Regions from separate parts of the Homo sapiens genome. Here region 2 is linked to region 1. Evidence: fine-mapped expression QTL. Tissue or cell type: testis. Region 1 holds a variant in brackets; the other region holds the start of a gene. All regions are shown on one strand. Distances are from middle to middle.

Region 1 (2,500 bases):
TATATATATATATTTTTTTTTTTTTTTAATTATAGTATAGTTTTATGGTGGCCAAAAAAGGTTGGCTCTTGTGCCAAGGAAAAATGAGAGCAATTATCAATTTTAAAGTAAAATACATAGATCATTCTGTGCCGTGGAGGTATGTAATTGGAGTAGTTAAAGACTGTATTTAGGAATATTGCACCAATATCAGGAGTTTGAGGGAATTAATTGAGAAAAACAGACAAAAGGAACACATGAAAACCCACTCTTTTCATTTATAAACAGTTCCTATGTCCCCTTGGAGAATAGCATTATTGCATAGGATAGATAAACCCAAGGAAAACAAAATTAATTGATAATTAATTAGTATTATAAAGATTTTTTTAGTAAATAACTGGAATTACAAGTAAGAGTAAGATAAAATATGGTGTTTTACAAGAAATTTTACAATACAGATAGGACTTTATAAAACAGACTTGCATTGTTTTCCATTAAACTCTGGAAGGAAGAATCTAAACAATACTTGGAAAGCCTATCTGGAATAGTAAACAAGAAAGGCTATGACACCTATAAAATTTTAATTTCCTCCATCATAATTCCTGTCAGTGTATAAATCATTGCAATTGTATGTGTTAATGTGTACAGTACAGGGAAGAAGCCTGTGCTCTGCTTCCATACTTACTTTATATAATATGGAAGCTTGATAAATGTTTAATGGTGGCCATGCACCGTGATTGAAATATACTTTGTGTCACCAAAGTGGTGACATTCCTTCCGCATTGGGTGGACACTGCCACTGCTCTGTCTTACAGGTGCATTTTCAAAATTAACCACTGGAGGGAGTTGTTGGCATAGCTAAGATGTACCCAAGGTACCTTTTTTTTTTAAAGACCAGCTATGCAGCTTCTTTCATGGCCTATTTTTATTATCTCCTTCTCTTAAATCTGGGCTCAGAATCCACGATCCCTATGATTGTAACAAGAACAATCAAGCTTTGAAGATAGTGGACTTTTCCTACAGTGTTGACCTTAGGGTGCAGCTGGATGTTTTTACCCTCAGCGGCTTTCGGACTGTACAGATCCTGGAAGGACAAAAGATCCTGGCTAACTGTTCTTCTCCCTACCAGGTAAGTGTAAAACAAGCCTGAGCAAATATGGAGAGGGTTTCTTAATCTCTTTATTATCTAGATAAGCTATAAAAGCTACTGTTTACTGATACCGACTCCTAGAATAGATGACCTAGTTTTCAAATATCACCAAGTCAAGTAAAATGTAACATTTTTGTGTTACAGCATTGAAGAATATACACATACA[T/C]GTGCAAACACATGACTAACTCTGTAACCGAGTGCCAGGGCCACTCCTACTGCCTACCACCCATGTAATCTTTTATAAGTCATTTTCTGTGATCTTCTCTGTAAAATAGGGATAACAGTCTCTGCTATGTGTTTATCAGAATTGTTATGAGGAGTAAATGAAGTAATGTATATAAAAAGAACATTAGCACAAATGTAAAGTCTTTTGTATGGTGGCATTATATGCAGAAATTCCTTCTAACTCAGCTTTAGACATAAGACATTTGCTGATTGAATATGTAGCACAAACCTGAACTAATCATGTGGACCCCATTTAGATCACAGCTGGAGTTCATGCAAACTCAGTAGGTCTACAAATTTGAATGTGATAGTCCAAATATTTCATCTTTTGTTCTTAAGGATAATTCCTAGAATTGGCTCTATTGATCACTTCTTTGGAGAGCTTCTCCCTTTACTGTAAGGGTGAGGAACAGTCTACTAAAATGTATGTCATAAAATAAACTTAGTTAAGCACTGTAATACCTTTCAACTTCCTACCGAAATAAGCTGCCATGGTAGAGGCAGAGAATTATTTTAGCTGATGGTGCTTTTTGTGATTTCAGGTAGACCTGTTTGGTATAGCAGATTTAGCACATTTACTATTGTTCAAGGAACACCTACAGGTCTTCTGGGATGGGTCCTTCTGGAAACTTAGCCAAAATATTTCTGAGTAAGTATTGATGAATGTCAGGGTCTCTGCCTGTCCCAATAATTTTCTGTTTCTCTTGGGTGCTATCTCTGCTTTGGCAGCCTTAGTTTTTTAATCCAAATGCCATGGTTCCAGTAGTTTCAGCCAGTTTTCATTAGAGTATCAGCAGAGCAGCTAGTGCAGGAAAAAGGAACTGCTTACTAAAAATAAGATTCAAAACTATTCAGACTTCAGGACATCATTCTGAATCTAGCTGTATCTTCCAGACTACAGCTATAGTATGGAAGCTTCCCTGTTTAGATATGTGAAAAGAAGCATTTCATGAGAATAATTTTCTAACTAATTGGTGTTAGCCTTAAATTCCTTTTTCTTTATTTATTTATTTTTTGAGACGGAGTCTCGCTCTGTTGCCCAGGCTGGAGTGCAGTGGCATGATCTCGGCTCACTGCAACCTCTGCCTCCCAGGTTCAAGTGATTCTCCTGCTTCAGCCTCCTGAGTAGCTGGGATTACAGGCGTG
Region 2 (2,628 bases), 21 kb after region 1:
TGAACTTTTTTTTTCTTTTGAGACAGAGTCTCGCTCTGTCGCGCAGGCTGAAGTGCAGTGGCACAATCTTGGCTCACTGCAACCTCCGCCTCCCGGGTTCAAGCAATTCTCCTGCCTCAGCCTCCCAAGTAGCTGGGATTACAGGCATGTGCCACCACGCCCAGCTAATTTTTGTATTTTTAGTGGAATGAGGTTTCACCATGTTGGCCAGGCTGGTCTCAATCTCTTGACCTCATGGTCCACCCGCCTCAGCCTCTCAAAGTGCTGGGATTACAGGCGTGAGCCACTGTGCCTGGCCACAAATTGAAATTCTTATGTTTAATGCCATGACATCTAACACTGCGTTCAATCAAAATGTCTACGCATGCAGCTTGAGACCTTTGCACAGAAGGTGCCTAGGGTCATGATTTGGGAAGATTAATCTGCCATCAGTGGAGGGGTGGATAAAAACTAATGTTTATTGGGATCAAGATGAGCAGTCTCTGTGCCAGAAACTTTATTCCTTTAATTTCCACAGCCCTGTGAGGCAGGTGAAATCATCCCCATTTTATGGATGAGGAAATTGAAGTTCAATTGGTTCAATAACATGCCAAAGGTCACTCAACTGATGAACAGTGGAGCTGAGATGCGGAAGACTGAAGACTCACAGCCTGGACTTTTAACCAAACACCACATGGCTTCGCTACAGAAGAAAGTTAGAAAGTTTTCAAAAATAAAATGTAGAGCCAAGTGCCACCTTGGATATAAGGGACTGGGGGACGGGAAGAGGCAAGAACTCCCAGGCTTCCCTCTGGCTGTCAATAGCTAGTGGGTCCTGGCAGTGGGAGCTGGGCCATCAGAGGTGGCGCCTGAAGTGGGGCAGGCACAAAATGGGTTTTCGGGCAAGCATTTGCCCAGGTGATGGTCAAAGCCACAGAAAAAAGGTGTTTTGATGGAGTGGTGGCTGAGTGTGGGGAGAGATGAGCAGGGGACCAAGCCTGGAGCTTGGGCAGCCCACGATTGGACACTAGGAGAAGAAAAGAAGCCAGTGGAGGAGACACTGAGGCTAGGGATGGGGAGGGCACTGTGGAAGGCTGGGCTCCACCTGGCGCTCCGGGGAGCTGGCAGGGGGGCACATCAAGGAGCTCAAGCTGCCTCACCAGCAAATGCCTCTGTTTCTGACCAGGGGCAATGAAATAAAGGGACCCGGTTGAGTAACTGGTTTCTGGTCCCTGCCAGCCCAGGAAGCCAGCACCCACCCTGCCTTACATCCCATGTGCCACTCTCAGCCTTCGAAGCAAAACCAGCTGAGACCAGCACCTGCCAGATCTGAATGCGCAGCTCCAAGTTCTGGGGGGTGGGGGTGGGGGTGAGCCAAGGAGGTCTGGCTTCTCTAGGGCAAGGGTAGGAAGGACAGCAGGGAGGCTCACCCTGAGCCCGGCAGGCAGCCCTTCCTCCTCCTCCCCTTCAGCAAAGAAAGGCAGATAAAAACGTGTTTTTATAAATAGCTCCAGCCCCAGCTGATTTGTAAATTCAGTGGGTTTTTTGTGTCAATGACATCACCTTCCTCCCCATGGCAACCCCCGACGATATCAAAATTGCCAAGCAACGTTGGAGCAGCTCGGCGCCCCAAACGAGCAGGTCGATGCCTGAGGATTTAATGGAGAAATCCCAAAGTGAGCCGGGGCGCGCGGTGGAGGAGGGGCGCGCCGCAGCCGGGGCCGCTGGGCCCTGATGGGCGGGAGCGGGGTGGAGCGGCCTCGCCTGCCAGGCAGCCCTGGGCGCGGGGCTCGGCGGCCACACTCTGGAGACAGCCACGGTCCAGGCAGGTGGGGGAGGGCGCTGCTCCCGTCCTGATGTGCCAGGAGCCGCCAGCAGCCATCCAGGTGACTAAGCCGGCCCACTAGCACTGAGTCACCGCCCGCCTCGAGCTGTTCTTGCTTCTCCTTTGCATCTGATTATTTTGGGAGCTGGAAACTTGGAGCTGCACCTGAGTCCCGCCCCTTCTAGCTCTCCCCTCCCTACCTTGGGCTCCAGGAAGATGGGACTTGCTGTGAGTCTGCTGCCACCCCCTAAAGATATGGAAGACGCTGTGGGGGCCAGAAGTGCCCGGGGGGCTGTGGCAGCAGGCAGAGTGCAATAGCAGATATGGTGGTCAGGCTGCCTGTGTGTGTCCTCTGGAGGTGTTGGGACAGAAGGGCAGTCTTGTCCGAGCTGACTGGAGTCCTCCCGGGCTGGCTCTGAACTCATCTCCCACGGGGATGTTTCGGTAAAGGAGTGGCTTCTGGGGTCGGAGTGGCATTTGGAGAGCGAGGCTGGATTGGCTTAGGCTGGCCTGGGCAGGTAGGTGGCTCTGTGTTGGGTGTGGACCCACGTGTGTGTGAGTGCGAGAGTGTGTAAGCCAGTGTGTGTGCCGTCCCCCTGCTGGGGACAGCAGCTGGGTCCAGCAGAGAGCTGGCTGGGGGCTTGACAGGAGTTTATCCTAACTGATGCTGGGTGGGCGCAGGCCCTGAGATGGGCGTCAGGGAGAGGGGACGCCAGACACACGGCCTGAGCAGGGTGAGGAGCAGCTGCCAGCCCCGGCAGGCCCAGGCCCTGTCTGGGTGCACAGGACAGAGACACAGCAAGATGCCCAGGTAGGAAGCCGTC

The links. PIP is the estimated chance that this variant, and not a neighbour inherited with it, causes the effect.
Region 2: PAK6 starts here. The variant in region 1 is fine-mapped to the expression of PAK6 in testis (GTEx, PIP above 0.99).

The regions. Positions count from the first base shown.
Region 1 is chr15:40,216,560-40,219,059 of GRCh38, forward strand. BUB1B (BUB1 mitotic checkpoint serine/threonine kinase B) reads left to right here. Exons shown (of 23, transcript NM_001211.6): 21 at 937-1,108; 22 at 1,897-2,003. BUB1B-PAK6 (BUB1B-PAK6 readthrough) reads left to right here and starts at 869. Exons shown (of 10, transcript NM_001128629.3): 1 at 869-1,108. All of the region lies in intron 1 of LOC107984763 (a long non-coding RNA gene), which reads right to left. The variant T/C (reference allele first, on the strand shown) is at 1,296.
Region 2 is chr15:40,237,481-40,240,108 of GRCh38, forward strand. It overlaps PAK6 (p21 (RAC1) activated kinase 6), which reads left to right and starts at 1,583. Exons shown (of 11, transcript NM_001395430.1): 1 at 1,583-2,322. All of the region lies in intron 1 of BUB1B-PAK6 (BUB1B-PAK6 readthrough), which reads left to right. It overlaps LOC107984763 (a long non-coding RNA gene), which reads right to left and starts at 2,221. Exons shown (of 3, transcript XR_001751506.2): 1 at 2,005-2,221.